7 linked regions of the Homo sapiens genome follow. The protein of the gene in region 1 purifies or fractionates together with the protein of each later gene. This does not show direct contact. Each region holds a gene or a part of one and is shown in the gene's direction. Other genes may lie near its edges.

The links.
Region 2: the proteins of RBM45 (region 1) and DHX30 purify together in Homo sapiens (affinity purification with mass spectrometry; one large-scale study listed by BioGRID and IntAct). This does not show direct contact.
Region 3: the proteins of RBM45 (region 1) and LRPPRC purify together in Homo sapiens (affinity purification with mass spectrometry; one large-scale study listed by BioGRID and IntAct). This does not show direct contact.
Region 4: the proteins of RBM45 (region 1) and QKI purify together in Homo sapiens (affinity purification with mass spectrometry; one large-scale study listed by BioGRID and IntAct). This does not show direct contact.
Region 5: the proteins of RBM45 (region 1) and PUM2 purify together in Homo sapiens (affinity purification with mass spectrometry; one large-scale study listed by BioGRID and IntAct). This does not show direct contact.
Region 6: the proteins of RBM45 (region 1) and FNDC3A purify together in Homo sapiens (affinity purification with mass spectrometry; one large-scale study listed by BioGRID and IntAct). This does not show direct contact.
Region 7: the proteins of RBM45 (region 1) and GTF2I purify together in Homo sapiens (affinity purification with mass spectrometry, with the first as the bait; one large-scale study listed by BioGRID). This does not show direct contact.

Annotation. Positions count from the first base shown.
Region 1 is NC_000002.12:178,122,324-178,126,413, forward strand, and holds part of RBM45 (RNA-binding protein 45), read left to right. Parts: intron 1-1,198; coding exon 1,199-1,328; intron 1,329-1,504; coding exon 1,505-1,589; intron 1,590-1,803; coding exon 1,804-1,967; intron 1,968-3,660; coding exon 3,661-3,853; 3' UTR 3,854-3,861; intron 3,862-4,090. UniProt on the Homo sapiens protein: RNA-binding protein with binding specificity for poly(C). May play an important role in neural development.
Region 2 is NC_000003.12:47,805,826-47,809,915, forward strand, and holds part of DHX30 (ATP-dependent RNA helicase DHX30), read left to right. Parts: intron 1-4,090.
Region 3 is NC_000002.12:43,891,319-43,895,408, reverse strand, and holds part of LRPPRC (leucine-rich PPR motif-containing protein, mitochondrial precursor), read left to right. Parts: intron 1-779; coding exon 780-864; intron 865-4,090. UniProt on the Homo sapiens protein: May play a role in RNA metabolism in both nuclei and mitochondria. In the nucleus binds to HNRPA1-associated poly(A) mRNAs and is part of nmRNP complexes at late stages of mRNA maturation which are possibly associated with nuclear mRNA export.
Region 4 is NC_000006.12:163,571,516-163,575,605, forward strand, and holds part of QKI (KH domain-containing RNA-binding protein QKI), read left to right. Parts: 3' UTR 1-4,090. UniProt on the Homo sapiens protein: RNA reader protein, which recognizes and binds specific RNAs, thereby regulating RNA metabolic processes, such as pre-mRNA splicing, circular RNA (circRNA) formation, mRNA export, mRNA stability and/or translation.
Region 5 is NC_000002.12:20,253,118-20,257,207, reverse strand, and holds part of PUM2 (pumilio homolog 2), read left to right. Parts: intron 1-1,037; coding exon 1,038-1,175; intron 1,176-1,866; coding exon 1,867-1,992; intron 1,993-2,223; coding exon 2,224-2,345; intron 2,346-3,193; coding exon 3,194-3,386; intron 3,387-4,090. UniProt on the Homo sapiens protein: Sequence-specific RNA-binding protein that acts as a post-transcriptional repressor by binding the 3'-UTR of mRNA targets.
Region 6 is NC_000013.11:49,136,281-49,140,370, forward strand, and holds part of FNDC3A (fibronectin type-III domain-containing protein 3A), read left to right. Parts: intron 1-51; coding exon 52-321; intron 322-2,466; coding exon 2,467-2,525; intron 2,526-4,090. UniProt on the Homo sapiens protein: Mediates spermatid-Sertoli adhesion during spermatogenesis.
Region 7 is NC_000007.14:74,664,057-74,668,146, forward strand, and holds part of GTF2I (general transcription factor II-I), read left to right. Parts: intron 1-4,090. UniProt on the Homo sapiens protein: Interacts with the basal transcription machinery by coordinating the formation of a multiprotein complex at the C-FOS promoter, and linking specific signal responsive activator complexes.

The DNA of each region.
Region 1 (4,090 bases):
CCTTTTAGAGTGGCATGGCTATTGACATAGAAGTAGTGACGTGAGTTTGGTCATGTGGACCAACAGGACTAAGGTAACTCCACCCTTCATACAGACACCCCCACATACTCACTAGTACCCAACCCAGCACTAGTCTTTTTGTAGAACTGTCTTTGAGCCATCCCCAGTCTTAACCCGATCATATGCGTCATTCTCTGTTCTAAGACTTCTAGGCACACATTTTTGTGTTCTCTGGCACATTTGTTATATGCATATGAAGTTGTGTTCATTTTGTTTTGTTCCCTCCCTTTTATCTGGTATGTCAAAATGTATTTGTTCCTGTACCTCCTGTTTTGTTTCTCTGGTTGGATGTGTCTGAAATATATGTGTCATTGGAACATCTTTTTATTAATAGAGGTGTCATCATATAGTTCGAATCTCATTTGAATTAACTTTATATGGTCATTTGATTTCTGTGTTTTATTTTAATTTCATTAAAATGTTGGATGCTTGGGTTTCCAGATGAACATAAATTATAAGTGTTTCCCCAGTGGTTTGTATTATAAAAGTGAAAACCTTTTAGTTGTGTCACAAACTCCTGGGCTCTCTAAGGAATGCATTATAACATTGTCCCTCCCTTCAACATCACCCTCCTAAATTGAAATTCGTCCCTTTGGCAGAAATCTCTCCAAAGGAAAGTAAAATATATCACTTGTGATCTGAGATCCTCTGTTCCCTATCTTTTTGTTTTTCATTCAAATCACTTTTCCTCTCCCTACTGCTGCAGATAGCCGGGATGAGTATATATTCTTTTCAACTATCACTTCTCATTTCATTTCCTACCCAGTATGGTTGGGAAAATCTTAAAATTTCAAAGTAGATTTCAAAGAATAAAAATTTAGACTTTTAAGTATATTGGTATCATATAAGAAAAGCTAGTATCCTAAAACTAAACTTATTAGACAGGACGTATGTTAATATTCCATTTTCCCTAAAATATCATGTTCATATTTTTCCCTAAATTATTTCTTCCTTTTCTAGGAATACACCTGTTGCACACATGATAACAGAACTGTGTTTTCTGATACATTCGATTCTGTATTTACTAGTTGTGTGATATTAGAGTTCTACATGGTTTCATTTTTGTGATAGATTGTAACATAGGCCTTAGGCACTCAGTCTGCTTTCCTTTTTCATTTCTGTATGTTCTCTATTTTAGGTCATGGAGTGGTTCAGTATTTTAATGTAGCATCAGCTATTTATGCAAAATACAAATTACATGGATTTCAGTACCCTCCTGGGAACCGAATAGGTGTTTCCTTCATTGATGATGGAAGTAATGCAACAGAGTAAGTACCATTCCAGGAGTGTCTAAAGCCGAGCTTTGAGTGTACATGATTGATAGGACTTGAAGAATAAAAATAGAAACAATTGACCTCTCAGGTGAGAAAGTCACACAAAACAAGCTACTGTTAAAAGACTGAATATTTTTAGTTTTCTGTAAATTATCAGTTATTTTTTCCAGTCTCCTTAGAAAAATGGCAACACAGATGGTAGCTGCACAGCTTGCATCAATGGTGTGGAATAACCCAAGTCAGCAACAATTTATGGTAAGTAGGTAAGAATTTAACCTTTATAATATATCAATAGCATATAAAATAAATGTGAAGAGAAATCATGCTTTGTTGATTATCTGTGTATGAAAATTTTCAGAGCTATTGTGGAAGACCACATAGATGCCATGATACATATCTGTCTTTAGCTCTTGGCCAAAAATCCCTAAAGGGCATTTTTTTCTTTTTCTTGTTTTCTACCTGTTAACAGCAATTTGGAGGAAGCTCTGGATCACAGTTGCCTCAAATCCAGACAGATGTTGTACTTCCATCATGCAAAAAAAAAGCTCCTGCTGAAACTCCTGTGAAAGAAAGACTTTTTATTGTGTTTAATCCTCATCCTTTACCTTTAGACGTATTAGAAGATATATTCTGGTAAGAAAGTTACATTTTTTGTTATATTTTATTTACACTAGTAATTTAATTATTCTTATAATCTAGACACTTCCTTCACCCAGTACCTATCAAGTAGAGAGTATTAGTTCTCTGCTTTTAAAACCTCCTTATTTGTATCATCTTTTTCAATTTCTGATTATTTTCTTCTCTTGTTTATCAGTCACACATCCTAAGGCTCCATAGAGAATTTCCTGCTATTTTGTTTTTGAAACATAAAGTGGGCCTGGTGCAGTGGCTCATGCCTGTAATCCCAACACTTTGGGAGGCCGAGGTCAGGGGATCGCTTGAGCTCAGGAGTTCAAGACCAGACTGGGCAATATGGCAAAACCCCATCTCTACAAAAAATACAAGAATTAGCCAGGCATGGTGGTACATGCCTGTGGTCGCAGATACTTGGGAGGCTAAGGTGGCAGGATTGCTTTTGCCCAGGAGGTCGAGGTTGCAGTGAGCCAAGATTGTGCTACTGTACTCCAGCCTGGGTGACAGAGTGAGACCCTTTTTGTTTTTTGTGTTTTTTTTGCTAAGCATCTTCTGTTTTGTTGGTGCATTGTAGGATCCTTAAGGGTTATGCAGTCGCATTGTGTAAACAATTACTTGATTGTAGGGAAAAATACATAAATGTTTTTTATAATAAAAAAGGGAAGGTTCTTATTTATTTTTGTGTTTTTAACATAACTCCTTTCTTTGCTTTTTCTTTTAGGCCTTTTTCCCATTTGCCTTACAAGAATGTTAGTGAATTTGATAGACAGGAAGCTTGTTAAAGAGCTGCACAAAATATCAGGGACATAATGTGATAGTATATTGAGGCTCAAAAGGAAAAAAATATCAGGATATGGTTCAAGTATTTTGACCTTTATTTAACTGATATATTTAGTTTTCTTCTTGAACCTCCTCTTTGTTCAAGGCAGGAACTGTGCTAAGTACAAGAGACATGTAAACAAAATATTAAATGGACAAGACATTATGATTCTTGTCCTCTTAGAGCTGATCTCATGTAGGAAACAGACAAGTAAACAGAAAATTACAACCCAGGGTGATTGTTGCTGTGATAAGGAATGTGTAAGATACAAAGGAGGAGCAGTTACCTTAGAAACTCTGAGAAGCCTTGAAAGAAGGAAGGTGTATGTGGAGACCTGAAGTATAAAAATAATTTCTCCACAGGTGAAAGCTGGGGGTATGCATGGTTATTTCTGCCATAGAGAATGTAAAAGAAGGGCTGTTAAATAGGGAATTTGAGAGATTGTTAAGGAAGATGAAACTAAAGAGTCCAAGGACAATGTCAGAACGGCTCTAGAGCTATATTAAGGAATTTGTTGTCACCATGGAGGCAATGGGGAGCTGCTGAGGGGACTTTTAGGGAGTAAATGATCATATTTATGTTTTAGAAAGATCACTCAGAAGACAGAGTGAAAAATGGATTGAAGAGGGACAAGCTCAGGGGTAAGGAAACTAGTGAAAAAGGAGTTAGATTAAGGAAAAGATGATGGTCTGAATGAGAAGAGAGATCTGAATGAGAATGAATAGAATTGACTGAGATGTTTAAGATTGACATGAGTTGGATGTTGGATCTGGGGAGAAGGGTGAAAATGGAGTCAAGAATGGACTCCAAATTTTAGACCTGAGCAGTTGTATTTATCAATTTTGGTTGATTATTTTTTTCACTTTGTTTCAGTCGTTTTGGTAACCTGATCGAAGTTTACCTTGTGTCAGGAAAAAATGTGGGGTATGCCAAGTATGCCGATAGAATAAGTGCTAATGATGCCATTGCCACTCTACATGGAAAGATTCTGAATGGGGTGAGACTTAAAGTTATGCTGGCAGATTCGCCAAGAGAAGAATCTAACAAACGGCAAAGAACTTACTGATTCTTGAGGTAAGCCCTTTTTAATCTGAATTTTAAAACATATTGAGTAAATAGTATATGAGGAATATGTGTAAGTACTTTATAAACTTTTCTTTTTAGTGATTTAGAAGTTGTCAGTTAAAAGAGCTTTGCAACTATTTAAACTTTAAAAATTGTTGACATTTACTGAAGAATGTTTTTGCCCTTCTGTAAAATAAAATCACATTTCAATTTAGAAAGATAAATAATTGTTTTTTGT
Region 2 (4,090 bases), on another chromosome or scaffold:
CCACTGTGCCCAGCCAGAAGGGTATCATTTTTAGTCATTGTGGAGTCTCTGTCCTGGAACCATCCCCAAGTGACTCTACCTGGAGTTAAATTGTATTTCATTATGCAGGAAATCTTGATATAATAGCATTTTACTTATCTGTAAATTACTTAAGAGACACATTGAGCTACAAGGTTTTTTGTTTTTGAGACAGTCTTGCCCTGTCGCCCAGGCTGGAGTGCAGTGGTGCAATCTTGGCTCACTGCAACCTCCACCTCCTTAGTTCAAGCAATTCCCCTGCCTCAGCCTCATGCCACCAAGCCCGGCTAATTTTTTTGTATTTTTTTTTTTTTTTTTAGATGGGAGTCTCACTCTGTTGCCCAGGTTGGAGTGCAGTGGTGGGATCTTGGCTCACTGCAACCTCTGCCTCCTGGGTTCAAGCGATTCTCCTGCCTCAGCCTCCTGAGTAGCTGGGATTACAGGTGCGCACCACCACGCCTGGCTTATTTTTGTATTTTTAGTAGAGATGGGGTTTCACCATTTTGGTCAGGCTAACCTCAAACTCCTGACCTTGTGATCTGCCTGCCTCTGCCTCCGAAAGTGCTGGGATTACAGGTGTGAGCCACCGTGCCTGGCCAATTTTTTTCTTTTTTTTTTCTGAGATGGAGTCTCACTCTGTCACCCAGGCTGGAGTACAGTGGTGCAATCTTGGCTCACTGCAACCTCCGCCTCCCGGGTTCAAGCGATTCTTCTGTCTCAGCCTCCTGAGTAGCTGGGACTACAGGCGTGCACCACCACGCCTGGCTAATTTTTTGTATTTTTAGTGAAGATGGGGTTTTACCATGTTGGCCGTGCTGGTCTCGAACTCCTGACTTTGTGATCCACCTGCTTCGGCCTCCCAAAGTGCTGGGATTACAGGAGTGAGCCACTGCGCTCAGGCGTGCCTGGCCAATTTTTTTTGTATTTTTAGTAGAGACAGGATTTCACCATCTTGGCCAGAATGGGCTCGAACTCCTGACCTCAGGCAATCTGCCTGCCTCAGCCTCCCAAAGTGATGGGATTACAGGCGTGAGCCACCAAGCCTGGCCCACTACAAAGATTTTTAAACATTACTGCATTATGGCCGGTCGTGGTGGCTGATGCCTGTAATCCCAGCACTTTGGGAGGCTGAGGCGGGCGGATCACAAGGTCAGGAGTTCGAGTCCAGCCTGGCCAACATGGTGAAACACTGTCTCTACCAAAAATACAAAAATTAGCCAGGCGTGGTGGCGGGTGCCTGTAATCCCAGCTACTAGGGAGACTGAGACAGGAGAATCATTTGAATCCGGGAGGTGGAGGTTGTAGTGAGCAGAGATCATGCCATTGCACTCCAGCCTGGGCAACAAGAGCAACACTCTGTCTCAAAACAAAACACCATTACTGACTGCATTACAAGGAAGACCGCTTTCTTTTGGATCTCTATGAAATGTTCTAGAGCTCTGTAAATTCTGTCTCTAAAAGATCCTGTCTTGATTCTCATAGTATCGTTTTTTTAGATTAGTACAGGAAAAAGAATGGTACATGAGCCTAAATTGACATATTGGGCTAGAGGTTTAGGGACTTTTAAAAAGCAAAACTGGCCGGGCACGGTGGCTCATGCCTGTAATCCCAGCACTTTGGGAGGCCGAGGCAGGCAGATCATGAGGCCAAGAGATCGAGACCATCCTGGCCAACATGATGAAAGCCCATCTCTACTAAAAATCCAAAAAAATTTAGCCGTGCATGGTGGCGTGTGCCTGTAGTCCCAGCTACTTGGAAGGCTGAGACAGGAGAATAGCTTGAACCCGGGAGGTGGAGGTTGCAGTAAGCTGATATTACGCCATTGCCCTCCAACCTGGTGACAGAGCGAGACTCTGTCTCAAAAAAAAAAAAAAAAAAAAAAAAGCAAAATCAAGAGTCTATTTGCAAGCAAATTAACTTACAAATTTTTTTTTTAGAGGCAGGGTCTCACTGTGTTGCCTAGGCTGGTCTTGAACTCCTGGCCTCAAGCGATCCTTCACCTGGGCGTCCCAAAGTGCTGGGACTACAGGCATGAGCCACCCCACCTAGCCATTAAATTTTGCTTTTTTTTTTTAAATTTTTTTGAGACAGAGTTTCGCTCTTGTTGCCCAGCCTGCAGTGCAGTGGCGCAATCTCATCTCACTGGAACGTCCACCTCCTGGGTTCAAGTGATTCTCCTGCCTCAGCCTCCCACGTAGTTGGGATTACAGGCATGCACCACCACGTCCGGCTAATTTTGTATTTTTAGTAGAGACGGGGTTTCTGCATGTTGGTCAGGCTGGTCTCAAACTCCCGACCTCAGGTGATCTGCTTGCCTCGGCCTCCCAAAATGCTGGGATTACAGGCATGAGCCACTGCACCCGCCTTACTTTTTGTTTTTTTTTTTTAAGAGAGACAGGGTCTTGCTTTGTCACCCAGACTGGAGTGCAGTGGCGTGATCACAGCTCACTGTAAACCTCAAAATCCTGGGCGAAGTGATCCTCCTGCCTCAGCCTCCTGAGTAGCTAAGACTGCAAGCATGTACCACCACACCTGGCTAATTCTGAAAATTTTTTTTAGAGATGCGGTCTCACTATGTTGCCCAGGCTGGTCTTGAACTCCTGGTCTCAAGTGCTCCTCTCATCTCAGCCTCCCAAAGCGCTGGGATTACAGGTGTGAACCACTGTGCCTAGCCAGTTTACCATTTCGTAGCAATAGAGTATTGTTTCTTTTTTTTTTTTCTTAAATTTATTTTTTATTTTTATTTTTTTGAGATGGAGTCTCGCTCTGTTGCCCAGGCTGGAGTGCAGAGGTGTGATCTTGGCTCACTGCAACCTCCGCTTCTCGGGTTCAAGCGATTCTCCTGCCTCAGTCCCCTGAGTAGCTGGGATTACAGGCATGCGCCACCACAGCTGGCTAATTTTTGTATTTTTACTGGGGGCGAGGTTTCCTCATGTTGGCCAGGCTGGTCTCGAACTTCTGACCTCAGGGTGATCCGCCCACCTCAGCCTCCCAAAGTGCTGGGATTACAGGCATGAGCCACTGCAACCAGCCGAGTTTTGTTTTTTGTTTTTGTTTTTTTTGAGACAGAGTCTCACTCTTGTTGCCCAGGCTGGAGTGCAATGGTGCGATCTCGGCTCACTGCAACCTCTGCTTCCCGGATTCAAGCGATTCTCCTGCCCCAGCCTCCCGAGTAGCTGAGATTACAGGCGCCTGCCACCGTGCCTGGCTAATTTTTTGTATTTTTTTAGTAGAGACGGGGTCATGTTGGTCAGGGAGTATTGTTTTTTAAGTAATATTCACTTAAAATGTTTTAGATTTTATAATATTCTGGTTTTCTTTTAAATTAGAATGTCAAATTACACACTTTTTATTTTCATTTGGATAGAAGGTGTCTATGGAATGTAACTTCTTTTTTTTTTTTTTTTTTTTTTTTTGAGACGGAGTCTCACTCTGTCGCCCAGGCTGGAGTGCAGTGGCACAATCTTGGCTCACTGCAAGCTCTGCCTCCTGGGTTCACGCCATTCTCCTGCCTCAGCCTCCTGAGTAGCTGGGACTACAGGCCCGCACAACCATGCCTGGCTCATTTTTTTGTATTTTTTTAGTAGAGACGGGGTTTCACCGTGTTAGCAAGGATGGTCTCGATCTCCTGACCTCGTGATCCGCCCACCTCGGCCTCCCAAAGTGCTGGGATTACAGGCGTGAGCCACCGCGCCTGGCCGGAATGTAACTTCTTAAAGTAAATGTTATCATTGTTGATATTGTATTGAAGTTTTCTCTGTGATATACCATATCCTATGGGCTGAAATTTCCAGCATCCCTTGGGGAGTGGAGGCCATCAGGGCAGACCTGCTATGGACCTGAAAGATTCCGCCCCAGGTCAGCCCTCCACTCCCCACCTCCCCACAATTTGAGAATGAGAGGGAACAGGAGTCAGGAGCCGGAGTGTTGGCCCCAGTAGACTCCAATCAATGTTGGACATGATTCTGATTGGCTAAACACTGTGTAGATGTTTTTAAACAAAGTCCATTTAAGGTTACTGCACTAATCAAGGAGTACTGGATTATAAAAACATCTATAAATCTGAGTTTGA
Region 3 (4,090 bases), about 130 Mb from region 1:
CAGTTTAAAATAGAAGAAGCCCTGGGAGGATGCAGGTCCAGGTGTGGATTGACTGAATAAACATGCTATAGAAAGGAGTTAGGATTTTTAAGATGCCTGTTAACAGTGTTCCATTGCTTGACAGTAGAATAGTTAAGCCAGATTTTGCTCCTCTTGGTGAGATGGGAAGAGGGCATAGATGTTTATATATCCATCATGGGTTTATCCAGTAACGTTGGAGTAGGGCGGGAAATACTCAGCAGATATTCATTACGGCATAGCAGTTCTGTATTCACTCGCTACAGGAAATAAAGCCATAGCCGAGTCTGCATATTCCTGGAAGAAATAAGTAAAAATTTCAGTGAGATTCTGGAAATGCTCTTTTTTGTATGTCAAGTGTGTAACACTTCAGAATGTTTTAACTGAATTCTTTACAATTTCATCAACCAGTTGTGGCACCTAAAGATAGGGTTGTTATCTCTCTACCCTTGGGATCTCATAACTTCTTGGTATGGTCACCACTTGACAAAAGAAGCAATGTGTTTATCATATTCTAGAAAAATATTCATAGAAATGTAAGTGGAATTGCATTAACCTGTGGAAAAATGCTGGTTTCTTTTAGCTGTAGATTATTGAGTCAATATCAAATGCTAATATACAAGGGACAATAGTGCATTAAATTTAATAGGTAGTTCTGTTATAATTATTGTGAAAATTTTTAATATAGTGTTGATTTGTCAGTGTTCTAATTCACTGTTAATTTGCGGTTTTCATAATATTACCTTTATGTAATTTCCTAGGCATCAACTGTGAAATCTGTGTTAGAATTGATTCCTGAATTAAATGAAAAGGAAGAAGCATACAATTCCCTCATGAAAAGCTATGGTAATATAAGTTTAATTTGACTATATTATTTATTTAAATGGCTTTATTATTTAAGTGACTATATCATGTAAATGACTTGTAGTATAGTGAACTAAGTCTTAGTCTTCAGCTCAAAGGCAGTAATCCTAAATATCAGATAATTATGATATAAATAACTCAGTTCTGGAATATGTTTTTAAACTATTAAGAAAAATATGAAATTATGCATATAACTTTAACATTAAAAAGTATCACTGAACATCTTCCGAGCAGTCCGGGTATATTGAGTAGAATCCCAGGCTCCTGGGAAGACCTGGAAATCCTCTTGGACTTATATATCAGAAACCAGTTCAGTCTCCCCAAGGGCCTGCCACCTGAAACAAGTACACATTTGAGACTCACTTAACTGGCCTTCTTGCTCCTTCAGTACCCTCTCTGCTTGCCTGCTACTCCTTTGAAATGACAGACCCTTGATTAAAAAGTAGCCCAAGGTTTTTACGTCCCAGTTCAAATTCTGGTCTTTTAACCAGTTTGTTCCCTGATTGCCAGACAATCACATATGAAAGGAAATTGTCTAAAGTTTCCTCAGTCATCAAAATAAATGTTAGCATTTCTCAATCATGATCACCTCTCCATCTGTGGCCCACTGATTTGCTCACTGGAGGCATGGGGTAAATAAAGAATTGCTTCATTGATTTTATCTATGGGAGGACAACAGACTCAAGAATCAGAATTAGTAAGTCAGTTCTCTTTTTCCGTCCTTACAGGGAGAACATTCTGTATTATTTCAAAATAGAGCTAATAGTCATAAAATTTATCAAATTTCCAGTAACTAAACACAGGCATACCTGGAAGATATGGTTCCAGACCACCACAATAAAGCAAATATAATGAACAAAGTTACATGAATTTTTTGGTTTCCCAGTGCATATAAAAGTTATGTTTACACCATAGTGTAGTGTATTAAGTGTGCAATAGCATTATGTTTTTAAAAAGTACATACCTTAATTTTAAGATATTGCTAAAAATAGTTAACGATCATCTGTGCCTTCAGTGAGTCATAATCTTGCTGGTAGAAGGTCTTGGCTCAATGTTGATGGCTGCTGAATGATCAGGGTGATGATTGCTAAAGGTTGAGATGTCTTAAGACAACAATAAAGTTTGCCACATCAGCTGACTTTTCCTTTCACGAAAGAGTTCTCTGTAGTATGCGATGTTGTTTGTTAGCATTTTATCTGCAATTGAATGTCTTTTCAAAATTGGAATCAATCTTCTCAAACCATACCACTGCTTTATTAACTAAATTTATGTCATATTCTGAATCCTTTGTTGTCATCTCAACAGTGTTCACAGCATCTTTACCAAGAGTAGATTCCTTCTCAAGAAACCACTTTCTTTGGTCATCCATAGGAAACAGCTTCTCCTCATGTTAAGTCTGATCATGAGATTGTAGCAATTCAGTCACGTCTTCACGCTCCACTTCTCCTTCTAGTTGTCTTGCTATTTCCACATCTGCAGTGATTTCCTCCACAGAAATCTTGAGACCCTCAAGGGGTTCATCCATGAGGGTTGAAATCAGCTTCTCCCAAACTCCTGTTAATGTTGATAATTTGACCTCCTATCAATTACAGATGTTCTTAATGGCATCTAGAAATGGTGAACCCTTCCCAGAAGGTTTTCAGTTTACTTTGCCCAGATCCATCAGAAGAATCACTGTCTGTGTCAGCTATAGCCTTATGAAACATGTTTTTTTTTTTTAATTTTATGTTTAAAACATGGAACGCTTTACACATTTGCGTGTCATCTTTGTGCAGGGGCCATGCTAATCTTCTCTGTATCATTCCAATTTCAGTATATGTGTTGCCGAAGTGAGCCCAAAATGTGTTAAGACTTGAAAGTCAAGATTACTCCTTGATCTATGGGCTGCAGAATGGATGTTTTATTAGGGCACCTGAGAACAACATTAATCTCCCTGTATATCTCCTTCAGAGCTCTTGGGTGACCAGGTGCATTATCACTGAGCAGTAATATTTTGAAAGGAATCTTTTTTTTCCTGAGCAGTAGGTCTCTACAGCAGGCTTTAAATACTCAGTGAACCATGTATAAACATCCATGCTGTCCTCTAGGCTTTGTTGTTCCATTTATAGAACACAGGCAGAATAAATTTAGCGTAATTCTTAAGGGCCCTAGGATTTGGGAATGGTAAGTGAGCATTGGCATCAACATAAAGTCACCAGCTGCATTAGCCATTGAAAATAGAGTCAGCCTGTCCTTTGAAGCTAGGCATTAGCTTTTCCTCTCTAGCTATGAAATCTTTGATGACATCTTCTAATATAAGACTGTTTTATCTACATGGAGTATCTGTTGTTTAGTGTAGCCGCCTTCATCAGTGGTCTTAGCTAGATTTTCTGGATAACCTGCCGTAGCTTCTGCATCAGCATTTGCTGCTTCACCTTGGACTTTCGTGTCATGGAGATGGCTTCTTTCCTTAAACCTCATGAACCAGCCTCTGCTAGTATTAGGGCCTTGCACTGGATTAGGCTTTGGCTTTTAAGGGAATGTTGTGGCTGGTTTGATCTTCTATCCGGACCAATAAAACTTTCTCCATGTCACTAGTAAGGCTGTGTCAGTTTCTTATCATTTGTGTGTTCAGTGAAGTAGCACCTTTTTAATTTCCTTCAAGGACTTTTCCTTTGCATTCACAACTGGCTGTTCCACGCAAGAAGCCTAGCTTTCAGCGTATCTCGGCTTTTGACATGCCTTCCTCACTAAGCTAAGCTTAATCATTTCATTTCTCGCTTCTGATTTAAATGAGAGATGTATGACTCTTTCACTTGAACACTTAGAGGCTATAATAGGGTTTTTAATTGGCCTAATTTCAATATTGTTGTGTCTCAGAATAGGGAGGCCTGAGTAGAGGAAGACAGGAGAATTACTAGTCAGCATCGCAGTCAGAACACGTTTCTCAAGTTTGCCATCTTCCATGTGTATGGTTCATAGCATCCCCCAATTACAATAGTAACATCAAAGATCACTGGTCACAGATCACCGTAACAGATATAACAATAATGAAAAAGGTTGAAATATTCCAGGAATTACCAAAATGTGACACAGAGACACAAAGTAAGCACATATTGTTGGAAAAATGGCATTGATAGACTTGCCCAAGGCAGGGTTACCATAAACCTTCAATTTGTAAATAACGCAACATCTGTAAAGTGCATTAAAGCCAAGGTATGCCTGTAAT
Region 4 (4,090 bases), on another chromosome or scaffold:
ACCTCCCTGTATAGAAAAAAATCATTAAGGATGTAAAAGCCATGCTTGCCTATTTGCTGTATACATGTAATGAAATTGTAGATAAAGTGTAGTGCATTGAAACAAATGAACAAAAAGTAGATACTTTTACTATACAAGGGTGCTGGTGCAGAAAAAAATATATATATTTTTGGAAATGTAGCATTTTATACTTTCAAGTGTTATAAAAAAAAAGAAAAAGAACAAAGAAACCCTTTATTTCATTAAATGATTTTTTCTGGTGGTTGTCAAGAAACAAAAGACCAAAAGAGCCTTTTTGTCTTTCTTTTTTATTTTTTAAGTATTGGAATAAGTCTAAAGAAAAGAAAGTGCCTTATTTTCCTTCATGGTCATTCAGTCAAGTGTCTCATAAAGATCAGCTCCTCCCTCAGAATACAAGTTAATGCATGTTACTCAGTCGCCCAGTATGTGAAAGAAGATATGAGGGAGACAAATGAGTTGATAGTTTGAATTATAGGATTTTTGCCACGTTACCTTGATGCAAATTTGCCAAATCTGATACTGTGAAAAGATTTGATAACTTTTCTAATGCCTGACTAGTAAGTTTTAAAACATCATTCTTTAAAAGAATAGTTTAATACTTTTGGTTATTCCAATCTTCAATGTTAACCCAAAGGATTCTGAGATAAAAATTATGTGTCATCTAAACTTCAGTTTACAGACAAAATTAGAGCTTTGTTTTATTTGGAGAAGGGGGATGCATTCATTTGATTTTGTTTTTTGTTTTTAATTAATTGAATATAATAGGATACCTAGCAAATGTTTTCACAAAAGTGAATCTTTGTGATTTTCATTCTAGAAAACAATGTTTTAAATCACCCAAATTTAATCACATGTCTTTATATCATACCAGATAACTGGTGTAGTGTATCCTTTTACTGTTTCAATAACCTCTGCCTCCCCCACCCCTTAACTTTAAAAGAATGTGAAAAACTAGCATCATAGTGCATATAAATACTCAACCACATTTCAGCTTAAGCTTCTAATTTCTCAAGAAGTTGAAACAGTTAGTTATGTAGTTGAAGCAATTTGTGTGCAAAGCCTACATCTAAACACTTGAGTGAATAATCATTAACTGCTCAGTACCAGACGTGGCAAATCTCAAGTGACAGTGGACCCCCCCCCCCGCCCAGCTTATCAACTCGTCCCCTCTTCCACACCTTCCCAGCATCACAGTCAGAGGTCAGCAGGAAGCTGAGTCATTACCTTCTTGGTGACCTCCCCCACCATCTTGTCTCACTTGGAAACCGTTGTCAGTTTATTTACTATGCAATAGACATTCATTGTTTTGTATCCAGCTAGCTTTGGTTTAATATGCCACTGCTTTGTCTTTCTGTTACACATACAGTTTTGATTTATTTACAATATATGCTGTGCCATTTTGATTTTTATATTGTTTGGTTGGTTGAATAAATTTGCGACACTCAAACACTTGAGGTGATAGTTGTTAAAAACAATACCAGTATTTGATCCAGTTTCATCTCAACTATGTTATACCTGGACATTTTAGATGTTTATCAAAGGTCTTTTATGGGGAAGAAAGTAAATGTATGAAATAATAAATGTGTGACATTTATAGGGAATGTTGGCTCTGAACAAACTTTTGAAAACTTGGTTGACAAAATTTTGGATCAACTGAAAAAAGCATGACTTTTGAAATCTCTGAATGCCTTGGTTCTCAGTATTATCATTCTTTATTGAATTTATTTCTTATTAAAATATGTAGTTTTTAAGACTTTTTTTCTGACAGTATTATGTAATTTTTTAGCGTGGGTAGATGGGAGTGTCGCTTGTATGTTATCGTACAGCTGACATGTATTTTTGTCTATTCTTTATTATCTTAGTTTCATGCTATGTATGTACCATAACCAACCTATTGCCTATGAGAAACATGTAAGATAATGTATTTACAGCCATTGTTACAAGTTTATAATGTATTTTTCTATCTTGTTTTATATGTATGTTATATAACATTCAAAAAGAATTTTTTTCTTGATTGAGAAAAGGATACAAAATGCAAAATCCACAATTTTGATAACTGAAAATTGCCAATTGTTTTGCAGTACTTTATTATATTGGGTGTCTTGTCTTTTTTGGGCTTTTAGTTAGCTAATGAATGAATACATTAGACACTTTTGGGTTTTAGTTGGGATTTTACATAGCTTGCATTTTAATTCTTTGGTTCTTTGCTGTTTCTATTAACCCACAGCATTATTTTAATAAATGTTATAATACCAACCTACTAACTCTGGACTTTGTCTGTTTATTAACCTTTATATGTTTAATTAAAATAAACAAATAAAGACAAAAGAATGTAAAGTCTTGAGTTACTGGACTAACCCTGAAGAACGTGACCACAGATAACATAGTGTGACTTGTTTTTATGTTGTTTGTCAGCTGACAGTTTTGCACACTACTGTTAAAATGGCTTTGGTTATTCTGGTCTTTTAGCTTGGGGGCCGGGGCGGGTGTGGGTGTAGGTGCAGTAGAGATGGGAACAAAGTAGCCTTTGTTTGAGGCATTCTTCTCTTGCCACTTGCCTTTCAGCATCTGCATTACTAATTCCACACCTTATTTTTCCTTCTCCAAAATAATCACTGTCTGCTCACAGCATCGAGTAAAAAGATACATTGTCATGGTATATACCTGGAGAAACCAGTTTGATTCTTTGTTGAACCATTTCTTTTAATTTCTGTAAATAAGTAATTTTATGGTCACATTGTAAAGCAGAGAAACTGTTGATATTTTACCTTTATTTAGATTTTTGTTTTAACTTGACCTTTTTCCTTTGGAAAGCGTTGAACTTGTTTAGCTAACTACTCCTATTAGGGGAGCTTAACTTGGGTAAAGTCAAAGGCCCACTGGCTGTTTCTCATGGTGGCCTGAAGCCCCGCTGCTTTCCAGTGAGGAAAAGAACCCTCAGCACGTTACTGAGCTTTCCTCAGGTATTTTTTTCTCTGTCACCTACTTTACAAATACAGTCAGACTAAAACATTAAACAAGAAGTTTAAGGGGGAATAACATTGGGATTTGAAAAGTTGTATGTGATTAATTTCTTGCATGCAAATCAATTTAAGATTTCTTAAATATCTTCATGCTTTTCTTGGCTGGAACTTGGGTAAATTAACCTGTAATTATGAATTATTTAGTTTAACTCAAGGTGCATTTTTATTTCACAGATTGATACTTGCTTTTTTCTGTGAAACAGTTCTCCTAGATACCAAAATCCTCAGGATGAATTTTTGCATTTGTAAATAACAATTTATCTTTGTAAATTACATTTTATTTATTTAGAGTTCTAAAATTGAGGGCTGAAATGAATGACATGTAATAGAAGACAAAACTGTACCAATACGCTGTTAACCAATCAGACTGTCCAGGTATTCTCATTTCATAAATATGTATACACACATATAAATACACAGAGTAGTGTTAGCTGATGTGAGTGATAACAGCGAATCACCATTGAGATGGTCATTTGGATCATGTAAACAAACCGTGTCATGTCTCTGATGGGAGCGGTGGGTAGTGTACTGTTAGGTGGACAGGTCTTTTAACATGCTACTATTTGTAAAAGTTTCCGTTGCCATAACAGTTCATGTAGTAGTCTGTGAAAATTCGAAGCTGTCTGTCAAGCTGCTAATATACAAGTTGTCATGGTACCATGTAACTTAAATTGATGAATTTCTATGCAATTTACTATTCTCTGAAGCCTATGAATGCAGCCTCATCTCATTTTCAGTTAAGGGTACTTTATGTATAATTATGTCATTGCTGCCTTTTATGTAGGAAATGTAAAAAAGTTTTAAAAGGCGAAAATAACATTACAGATTTCATTTTTATACAGGTTACAATATTAAACATGAAACTACCAAATTCCAAGAATAGTAAAATTCTAGAGTCAGTTGATTGATTGAAACTATTTGACAAAACAGTTGAAAGCTGAGCTTTCAGTCAAGAAGTTGGTGAAATTAATGTCCTTAAACTTTTCCTTTAGGCAAAATGTCAGGGAAAACTTAACATGAAAGTAGTTACTCCCATACGCACCAGT
Region 5 (4,090 bases), about 160 Mb from region 1:
GCTTAGAAACTTCTCTGCCACAAGTTTCTAACTGGTATAGATATTTTTAAAATGTCTTTGATATTTAAAAATAAAAGCATTAGCAGTAAGTCTTTGTTGAAACAGTTAATGAATAACAATATTATTTGGATTTCTTTTTTTTTTTTTTTTTTTTTTTTTTTTTTGAGACGGAATCTTGCTGTGTCGCCCAGGCTGGAGTGCAGTGGCACAATCTTGGCTCACTGCAACCTCCGCCTCCCAGGTTCAAGTGATTCTCCTGCCTCAGCCTCCGAAGTAGCTGGGATTACAGACATGCGCCACCACGTCTGGCTAGTTTTTTGTATTTTTGGTAGTAATCGGAGCCATGTCGCCCGGGCTGGTCTCAAAACTCCTGAGCTCAGGTGATCCACCAGCCTCAGGCTCCCAAAGTGCTGGGATTACAGGTGTGAGCCATCGCATCTGGCTATAAGCACTTTATTATAAGAGCATTTTATAAAAGAACAAAGATACCTGACATTAATTCTTCCCTTAGGGAATTATTGAGATAATATGTAAAAATCATAGCCCATAAGTAGTCATCAACTTCTTAGCCTTTTCTATGTACTTGATAAACTCACTCAGCCATTAAAAATAATTCCTTTGGTGGTGGAGGTGGTACTAAGTAAGGCGGAAGTGTGTAATTCTGAATTAGTCATGTTAGTTACCGCCCGATAAATATTAGCGGATGATTTACACAGTGAAGACAGTTTAAATACAGCAAGTTCAGCATCACTACGTTGTTTCAACATACATCATTTACATTATAATCCTGCAGTGTGTTTTAGTAATTTTCACTTTTCAATGGTTTCTGCTAATTATACTACAAGAGAAAAAAATTTAAACCCTTGACAAACAGGAAATAATATTTGTGAATATATTTGTGTTCCCATCTCAGTATTTTTAATACTGAGATAAATATACTGAGATTTTTAATATTTTTAATTTTTAATACTGAGATAAAATATACTAGTATTTTCTCGTTTGAGGTAATAATTTAAATGACATCCTGTCTTTTGCAGAGTGAAATGGTAAAGGAGCTGGATGGTCATGTGCTCAAATGTGTGAAAGATCAGAATGGAAACCATGTTGTACAAAAATGTATCGAATGTGTTCAGCCACAGTCACTACAGTTCATCATTGATGCTTTCAAGGGACAAGTATGTTTGAGTTTTGGCTTATAATTTGTTAGCAGGGCATTATTTTAGAATTTTGAATATCAACACGTTTTTCATGAGTCACTAGATAATACCCAGCAATTGTATACAAAAATAGGATACAAAACAGTAAATGTACATTAATTTCTTCCTCTTTCATAGTCAGTAGATAGCTTCATTTTTCTGAAGCTGCAAAACAAATAGTTTAATCACATTACTTTAAGAAGTAAAGGTAATCACTGTTAGAATTGTTTTTTATTTATACCCAACGATGTTTTCAGGTTTACTCAGAGAAGGGAAGGAGGTTTGGAGAAAGACATAAGACTGTATAATAAGACAGAAAACACATAGCAATTTGTAACTAATACATAGTAATTAATATTTCTTAATGCTGAACTACCCTTTCTCTTTTCACCCATTCATTCCCATTGTTACATAACCTCAGGTTCAGGTAAAGTTCTGGTTAGGTTCCTTTTGATCAAAATATCTTCAGCTCCTAAATGGAGTGCTCCCTGTCCCCACTCTCCAGTCTTTTCTAACATGGTGGTAGTCATATTAAATGTGAGTTCATCACCCTTCTATTTCAAACTGCTTTTAGGTGTTGTCAAAAAAAAAAAAAACAAACCAGTCTGCTTCATAGAACTGTTCAAAAATGTCAGAGAATACAAATTTTAATTCTTCTAATTGTCCTCAGGTATTTGTGCTTTCAACTCATCCTTATGGCTGCAGAGTAATTCAGCGCATCCTAGAGCATTGCACTGCAGAACAGACCTTACCTATCTTAGAAGAACTCCACCAACATACAGAGCAGTTGGTACAGGTATAAATTCCCTAATAATTTGAAATGTTTATATATTTTTGGAAATTGTTTTAATTTTTAAAAGAAATACAATTTGTTACTAAACACACTATAGACAAGAGTGAGACAAAAGGCTGTTGTATTCTCCTAACTATCCTACTGGATTTTTAGATGAAATGATTAACATGTCTTTAAAGAATATCATTCTTAAGGAATGACTTAGGGAAAGTAATTTTTAAATATCTGTCTTAGGATCAGTATGGCAATTATGTTATTCAGCATGTACTGGAACACGGTCGACCTGAAGACAAGAGCAAAATTGTTTCCGAAATCAGGGGAAAGGTTTTAGCCCTGAGTCAACACAAATTTGCCAGGTATTGTAATACTTTGTAATTTTAAGGGTCAATTCTTTCAACTCATTGACTTTTATTAGTTATCACAGAAATACGTGTAGCATGTAGCATTAAACTGTAGTCTTTTTTTTTTGGTATCATTAAAATGCACCTATAGAACATTGCTTTTGTTTTTTAAAAAAATCTACATAACAAATTTGTTTTGCCCACATATGTTCATTTATGAAATCTGTATTTGGAAAATAATTACTCCCGACACTGGAAATGCAGATTTATTTAGTACATGTTTCTTGAAAACCTCACAGCTTTAATGATCTGGTTTCCTTTTTTTTGAAGTACAATTTTAAGAGACCTGTAATTAAACTTGTGGATGTCAAAATGATGTAGGTTGTTCCAAGATACCAATTTCTGTTATAAAAGTAATTGGCTGGGTACAGTGTCTCACACGTGTAATCCCAGCCAGCACTTTGGGAGATCAAGGCAGGAGGATCAGTCGAGCCCAGGAATTCGAGATCAGCCTGGACAACATAGAGGGAGATCCTTTCTCTACAAAAAATTATCCAGGCGTGGTGGCGCATGCCTGTAGTCTCAGCTATGGGGGAGGCTGAGGTGGGAGAATCACTTCAGCAAGGGAGGTCAAGGCTGCAGTGAGCGGTGATAGCATCACTGCACTCCAGCCCGGGTGACAGAACAAGACCCTGTCTCAAAAAAAAAAAGAACAAAATAAAATAAAAGTAATCATAAGACAAGAGAATCCCATCCTGACTTCTGTTTTATTGTTCATTGGAGAAGATTCTTTCTATAAGTCAAGGAAATTTTGCTGTGAAGAAAAAAATAACAAATCTTTGTTTATCTGCTTTAATTTTTAGCAATGTAGTAGAAAAGTGTGTTACTCATGCCTCCCGTGCTGAGAGAGCTTTACTGATTGACGAGGTTTGCTGCCAGAATGATGGTCCTCACAGTGCCTTATACACCATGATGAAGGACCAGTATGCCAATTACGTGGTTCAAAAGATGATTGATATGGCTGAACCTGCTCAGAGAAAGATAATCATGCACAAGGTAATACAGCATGTAACACTCAGATAACTGTTTGTCTTTGTGTTTAGGCTACACATTTAACCTCCTTGGGCTTTCATTTCCTCCCGTATGTTATAACTGGAGGAAAAATTAAAATCGATGGATATCCTTTGGCAGATATATTGGTATGGTTTCCATTTTTATGCTTAAGGTTATCATGGCCAGGCATGGGGGCTTTTGCCCATAATTCCAGCAGATTGGGAGGCTGAGGTGACAAGATCACTTGAGCCCAGGAGTTTGAGACCAGCCTGAGCAATGTGGCAAGACCCTCCCTCTACAAAAAAAAAAAAAGAAAAACAATTAGACAAGCATCATGGTGCAACCCTTTAGTCCCAGCTACTTGGGAGGCTGTGGTGGGAGACCACTTGAGCCCAGGAGTTCAAGACCAGTCTGGACAACATAGACCCCCATCTCTACAAAAAATTTAAAAATTAGCTGGGTATGACGATACATGCCTGTGGTCCCAGCTACTCAGGCAGCTGAGATGGGAGGATCGCCTGAGTCCCGGAGGTTGAGGCTACAGTGGGCTGTGTTCATGCCAGTGCACTCCAGTCTGGGCAACAGAGCAAGACCCTGTCTCAAAAAATAAATCAGTCATTCAAAAGAAATTCTTAAGGAATCATATTCATTTCTCATCTGTTACCTATGTTTTACATTGTTCTTTTTGCCTTCATCTTATTTAACTG
Region 6 (4,090 bases), on another chromosome or scaffold:
CTTATTTGGAGAAAGTGATCTTCTTAACATTTTGTTTTTATTGCCTCCTAGATGCTCACTCTACACATGGAAGGTCCAACTTTAGAGATGAACGATCTAGTAAAACATATGAACGTTTGCAGAAAAAATTGAAGGATCGCCAAGGAACACAGAAAGATAAAATGAGCAGTCCACCATCATCACCCCAGAAATGCCCTTCTCCCATTAATGAACATAATGGACTTATAAAAGGACAAATTGCTGGTGGTATAAACACAGGATCAGCAAAAATCAAGTCTGGGAAGGGGAAAGGTGGTACACAAGTTGATACAGAAATTGAAGGTAACTGTTTGAAGTACTGAACTGTTCTCATTGATGCTATTCTCGTGATTTAACCTACTAAAAGTATATTCTAACCTTTCAGTCATTTTGTCATGGTCCAAATAGACTGTTACAGGCTGCTGCTTTCGACAGTTTGGAAAGCCTCAATTAGTAATTTCATCTATATCGTAAATTTTACTGACTGAAATTTCTATTTGATAGGAAAACTCAGAGAACATTAATCCAGATTCCTTTCTTCTGATTCTGGGCGTTTGATAAGGCTATGCTGCTGGTTTTTAATCAAAACTTTTTTTTTTTGAGACAGGGTCTTGCTTTGTCACCCAGGCTGGAGTGGCACGATCATAGATAACTGCAGCTGGAAACTACAGGCATACACCACCACACCCAGCTAATTTTTTAATTTTTAGTAGAGACAGGGTCTCGCTGTTTTGCCCATGCTGGTCTCGATCTCCTGGGCTCAAGCAGTCCTCCCATCTTGGCCTCTCAAAGTGCTGCAATTATAGGCCTGAGCCACTGTCCCCAACCTATCAAAACTTTTTATTTCTCCCACCTTCTTTTTGAGTAAAACCTTGATAGCAAATAGTTATATCATTTACTAATCTCTCTATATACTCTGTAATTAGGATAGAGTATTTTTCATTTCTTTCTTCAAAAGTTCTTTTCTCCTAAACTCTCCTTGTTACTCTTGGATCCTTCCCCTAACCTCTGACTTCTACTCTATGAACTTTGTTTTATTGGTTTTTGTTTGTTTGTTTGTTTTTGAGACCAAGTCTCGCTCTGTCACCCAGGCTGGAATGCAGTGGCGCAATGTCAGCTCACTGCAACCTCCGCCTCCTGTGTTGAAGCGATTCTCGTGCCTCAGCCTCCTGAGTAGCTGGGACTAAAGGCGCATGCCACCACGCCCAACTACTTTTTGTATTTTTAGTAGAGACAGGGTTTCACCATCTTGGCCAGGCTGGTCTCCAACTCCTAGGCTCAAGCAGTCCACCCACCTTGACCTTCCAGTGTGCTAAGATTACAGGCATGAGCCTACTATATGGACTTTGAGCACTATTATTTGTATATACTTGAATCAATCTCTATAAGGTAAAATATAGCTGGGTTAACAGCCTGTCTTTCATATGCCTACAGTTGTGGAGTTAGTACCCAGTACTTTTGATTGTAATGTTAAGCTTGTAACTACTGCTTACTTTGATTAATGTAGTTTCTATATGTATGTTCTTTTAGGTTTCCTTAATACTGACTATTATCTGTTTGACGTAGATATGCGTATGTAGAAATACATAGATATGCATGGTAGACCATGTCAGGTTCTAAAGGTTTCATCAGAAATGACTATGAACCATACCAACATGTCATTTCACAAGCACCAATAACCACAACTCTATCAGTCCTTGAATATGCTTATCTAAATTGATATTTACTATCAAATAGTGTAGGTAATTAATATATGACTAGGAACTAAAATGCTTCCAACTTTGAGGGAAATATCAAAATGTAAGCCATGTGAACTCTTCCTACCTTCCTTTTCCTTAAAATTTCCATGCCTCACTAACAAATTTCAAATAATGTCTTAACTGTTCATGACTTATATATTAACAACATTTACATAAATGTTCTCCCATTTATTTGAGACCTGATCATCGTTTTCAGCACTGATGTTTCAGAAGAAATTAAGTTAAAGTTTTTTGCCTATCAGTGGTGGCTATAAGTTACAGTCAAGCCAATTATATTTCTAATTTGGGAAACCATAACTAAGGCATGTCATGAAAAAATAGTTAACTTTATTAAGAGGTATGAGATTGACAAATGAGAACTTTCCAGAGAGAATATTCTTACAACCATGAATAAAAATATACTTGATATAAGAAAAATTTGGTTCAGATAGATATAGCTATGTCTAAATATATATAGATATATCTGTATATAGTGGTGTTATAATTAGTAGTCACAGTTAAGATAGAAATAAAAACTAAAGTAGATAAATGCTGAAGGGCCACAAACTGCTGAGTATGAACAAAGGAATAAAAACTAGAAAATAAAAGTCTCAAATACCAACCTAGTTTCAGAATACATATTTAGGGAGAAGAAGGGATTGTATCTAAGTTCTTTTTTTTAAATATTCAAATGTTTTATTTTTTTAAGAAAAAGATGAAGAAACTAAAGCATTTGAAGCACTTCTTTCCAACATTGTCAAACCAGTGGTAAGTATCTTATGTATTTTATTGATGTTTATATTTAATATATTAGCATAAGATGTTCATCCATCAAAATGTAGTTTTTTTCTTTTAACTTTTTATGAAAATAGGATCATACTGTATTCTGTGACAAGCTTTTTCACTCACTATGGTATGCTTTAGCTATCTTTCTATGTCATTACCTGATTCTTTGAAGAGCTACATAGTTTTGTCATTCATTCATCAAATATTTATTGATCCCTTACTATATGCCAATAAATAAAAAACAAATGCACAAACAGAATTCTGTGTGATAGTAAAGATTGCTATTATAGAAATAGGAATGATATGATGAGATTAATAGGAGAGGTTGTTAGGTTAAATAGAGCAATCAGGGAAGCTTTCTCTGACAAGTGAGAAAAAGTGCAAAAGTGGAAGGAATGGGAGAGGGAGAACAGGTGTAAGTAAGCATGGGGAGTTGGACAGAGGGAAAGAACCATTATCACTGGAGTATAGTGAAGGGGAGAAAGATGTGGTGGAAGAAGTAGGCCATAGGACTTTTTCAGCCAGAATAAGGCAATTTAAGATTGATAAGAATATTTTTTGGTTCATAAAACAAACTACTCTTTCCCAACTCTCAGAAACATCCATGGTAAAATGTTTTATACTAAGTTGCCCCAAAAATACTTTGTTTTTCTGAGAAAACAGATTAGAAAAGTTATTATTCTTAGTACCATCTCCATAAAGGCTTTTTAAGCTTATCTTGCCATGTTTTAGGATGTTTGAGTAAGCCAGTTCCTCATCTAATAGACTAATATGGTCCTACTTTTTCTGACAACTCCCAAATAATAGATTTGGTTGCTCTAGCTTTCTTTATTCTAATCTGTTTTCTCTTGAGAATAGAGCATATATGTGTAAATAAATGTAAATTTACACAATTATTTCATAGTAATGGTTAACACAAATTGATTAGCATCAGTCTCTGTTCAGAGTGCTTGGAATGCACATGTGCATTATTTAATACCTGTGACAACCATATATGTACTATTTTCCCTGCTTTACAAATGAGGAAACTGAAGCAACAGTGAGTTTCAATTAGTAGTAGTAGAGCTATGACTGAAATTTAGGCAGTATCCTTCCAAGACCCCAAGTGTATATCACTAGGTTTACTAGAAAAAGAATTTAGTAGGCTTAATAAGATTGATGTTTGAGTGATTTAATAGCTAATGCTAGTAGCATTTACTTGTTGTAGTATATATTAAAAGTATAATTTTCAGGCCAGGTGCAGTGGCTCACACTTTCCCAGTCCTTTGGAAAACCAAGACAAGAAGATCACTTGAGGCCAGGAGTTTGAGACCAGCCTGAGTAATATATTGAGACCTCGTCTCTACAAAAAACAAATACAGATACTACAGACCAAGGGGGCACACACCTGTAGTCCCAGATACTTGGGATGCTGAGGTGGGAGGATCCCTTGAGCCTAGGAGTTCAATGCTGCAGTGAACTAAGATTGTGCCTTTTCACTCCAGCCTGGGTGACAGAGCAAGAACCTGTCTCATAAATAAATAAATATATATATAATTTACAGACAG
Region 7 (4,090 bases), on another chromosome or scaffold:
GACCTCAGGTGATCTGCCCGCCTTGGCCTCCGAAAGTGCTGGGCCACCGCACCCAGCCAAGGATGTGTGTATCCTGTAAAAATTGTGTGGGTACGTCATCGGAAGAGGTGAAGGTATTGTCTTGATAATTCTTCATTCTCCATTCTTGCCCTGTCGTCCTTTACTGTTGTCCTTTTGTTCTGGAACTCTCCCTGCTGTCTTCCTGTTTGTTTTCTCCTCTGTAAAATTCTTGTTTTGGTATTCCATGCCTGTTTCTGGCAGTACTCATTTGCTTTTTACCACTTTGGCCTACTGAGAAAGTAAGAGAAAGTTCAGTATAGCCAGGAACTGTCAGAGTTGTTGGAGGATTGACTCATTCTCCTTTGGTTGTAACTTGTTTCTGTTTTTGTTTTTTTGAGAAGGAGTCTCCCTCTGTCGCACAGGCTAAAGTGCAATGGCGCGATCTCGGCTCACTGCAACTCTCGCCTCCCAGGTTCAAGCGATTCTCCTGCCTCAGTCTCCTGAGTAGCTGGGATTACAGGTGTGTGCCACCATGCCCGGCTAATTTTTGTATTTTTAGTAGATACAGGTTTCACCATGTTGGCCAGGCTGGTCTCAAACTGCTGACCTCAAATGATCCACCTGCCTCAGCCTCCCAAAGTGCTGGGATTACAGGCATGAGCCACCACGCCTGGCCAACACTCTATGTAGGATTTTTAAAGAACTAGTTACTTAAAAAATATATCATGAGAGGGAAGACAAATTTATAAATTGAGAGAGGGTTTATAGCTTATGGCTAGCGACACAAGTTTGAAGTCTGACTGCCTGGATTCCAGTCCTGGCCCTTGCCGTTTCCTGCCTGTGCGACCTTGGGCATTTCACTTCATCTTTGTATGTTTCCCTATTTTTTGTTTTTTTTTTTTGAGACAGAGTTTTGCTCTTGTTGCCCAGGCTGGAGTGTAGTGGCGCGCCTGGCTCACCGCAATCTCCGCCTACTGGGTTCAAGCGATTTTCCTGCCTCAGCCTCCTGAGTAGCTGGGATTACAGGTATGTGCCACCACCACGCCTGGCTAATTTTGTATTTTTAGTAGAGACGGGGTTTCTCCATTTTGGTCAGGCTGGTCTCGAACTCCTGACCTCAGGTGATCCACCCGCCTCGGCCTCCCAAAGTGCTGGGATTACAGGTGTGAGCCAACAGTGCCCGGCCTATTTTTTATTTTTATTTTTATTTTTTGAGACAGTGTCTTGCTCTGTTACCCAGGCTGGAATGCAGTGGCATGATCTCAGCTCACTACAACCCCTGCCTCTCGGGTTCGAGTGATTCTTGTGCCTCAGCCTCCCGAGTAGCTGGAATTATAGGCATGCGCCACCACACCTGGCTAATTTTTGTATTTTTAGCAGAGACAGGGTTTCACCATGTTGGCCAGGCTGGTCTCCAACTCTTGACCTCAGATGGTCCGCCCACCTCAGCCTCTCAAAGGCTGGGATTACAGGCCTGAGCCACCACGCCTGGCCCCTATTTTTAAAAATGGAGTTGATAATAGAACATGTTTCGCTTCTAAGAGCTGTTGCAAGGATAGAGTTTAAGTGCTTAGGTTGCTGTCTGGCATGTAGTAGACACTCAAGAAATATTAGTCATAAAAGTACTATTATAAAGACTTTTGGGAAATTGAGGAAGCGAAAATTTTACTAGTAATATCGACTATGACGTTAATCTCCAAGAACTCTGGAGAATATGAATTGCAAGGGCAAGGACTTATTCCTCTGTGGGATTTTCCCCTGTGACTGTTACATTGTTTTTATGTTTTGTTTTGTTGAGATGGAGTCTCCCTCTGTCACCCAGGCTGGAGTGCAGTGGCGGGATCCCAGCTCATTGCAACCTTCACCTCTGCCTCCCGGGTTCAAGTGATTCTCCTGTCTTAGCTTCCCAAGTAGCTGGGACTACAGGCGTGCGCCACCATGCCCAGCTAATTTTTGTATTTTTTAGTAGAGAAGGGGTTTTACTATATGTTGGCCAGGCTGGTCTGGAACCCCTGACCTCAGGTGATCTGCCCATCTCAGCCTCCCAAAGTGCTGGGATTACAGACGTGATCCACCGCGCCTGGCCAGAGCTTGACAGTTGGATTGATGAAACCTGAGAATGTATGCTTTATATGTTGTTCATTTTAATTTGTTATATCTAGAAATTTAGCTCTTACTGTTGACTATAACACATACATGACGTGAGTAGAATTTTATCTAGATTGAGTTTTCAGACCGTAATTGGTTTCAAGAAAATAAATAAGGTATTGGAAGTGAACTAAAATTAGTAACTGGCTTTGGCATTAGACTTTAATGCACTTAAATTACATGATCTCATCTGTGAGATAATTTGACAGAGGAGGACGATGGCATGTATTATGTCCATATGAGGAAAGGGCAGAGAAATAGACCCTGCAAGATTCATTAGTGTTACTCCTTCCTCCTGTTCGTTTTCTTTCTTCGTTTTCCCCCCCGGTAAGCATTAAAAAAAATTTTTTTTGGCTGGGTGTGGTGGCTCACTCCTGTACTCCCAGCACTTTGGGAGGCCATGACTCACTTGAGGTCAGGAGTTTGAGACCAGCCTGGCCAACATGGTGAAACCCCGTCTCTACTAAAAATACAAAAAATTGGCCGGGCACGGTGGCTCACACCTGTAATCCCAGCACTTTGGGAGTCCAAGGCGGGTGGATCACGAGGTCAGGAGATCGAGACCATCATGGCTAACATGGTGAAACCCTGTCTCTACTAAAAATACAAAAAAAAAAAAAAAAAAATTAGCCAGGCGTGATGGCGGGTGCCTGTAGTCCCAGCTACTCAGGAGGCTGAGGCAGGAGAATGGTGTGAAACCGGCAGGCGGAGCTTGCAGTGAGCTGAGATCGCACCACTGCACTCCAGCCTGGGTGACAGTGTGACACTCTGTCTCAAAAAACAAAAACAAATTAGCTAGGCGTGGTGGTGCGCACCTGTAATCCCAGACACTCGGGAGGCTGAGGCAGGAGAATCACTTGAACCCTGGAGGCGGAGGTTGCAGTGAGCCAAGATCACGCCATTCCACTCCAGCCTGGGCCATAGAACAAGACTATGTCTCAAGGAAAACAAACAAACAAAAAAACACATCTCTACTGAAAATACAGAAGTTAGCTGGGAGTGGTGACAGGTGCCTGTAATGCCAGCTGCTTGAGTGGCTGAGGCATGAGAATCACTTGAACCCGGGAGGTGGAGGTTACAGTGTACCGAGATCTTGCCACTGCTCTCCAGCCTAGGCGACAGAGCAAGACACCATCTCAAAAAAAAGAAAATCCTGTAAGATGAATTTGTTCCTTTATGAAGAATAAATTTGTGTCTGCCATTTACACCGTGAATGCCTTTCTTTGGAGTGGTTCCTTGTAGTGTTTTTTGTTGTTGTCGTTGTTGTTAAATTGTGGTAACATATACTTAACACAAAAATTACCATTTTAACCTTTTTTTGTGGGGGGAGGGACGGGATGTCACTCTGTTGCCCAGGCTGGAGTGCAGTGGTATGCTTTTGGCTCACTGTAACCTTCGTGTCCTAGGGTCAAGACATCCTCCCACCTCAGTCTCCCGAGTAGCTGGGACTACAGGTGCATGCCACCACGTCTGGCTTGATTTTTTTATTTTTTGTGGAGATGGGGGTCTCACTATGTTGCCCAGGCTGGTCTCCAACTCCTGAGCTCAAACAATCTGCCTGCATCTGCCTCCCAAAGTGCTGGGATTAGAGACATGAGCTACCACACCCAGCCTGATTTTACCAAAAGAAACTTTTTTTTTTTTTTTTGAGACAGAGTCTTGCTTTGTTGTCAGGCTGGAGTTCAGGGGCATGATCTCGGCTCATGGCAACCTCCATCTCCCGGGTTCAAGTGATTCTTCTGCCTCAGCCTCTCAAGTAGCTGGGACTACAGGTGCGCACCACCACGCCCAGCTAATTTTTGTATTTTTAGTAGAGATGGGGTTTCACCATGTTAGCCAGGATGGTCTCAGTCTCCTGACCTCATGATCCACTTGCCTCGGCCTCCCAAAGTGCTGGGATTACAGGCGTGAGCCACCGCGCCCAGTCTTAACCATTTTTAAG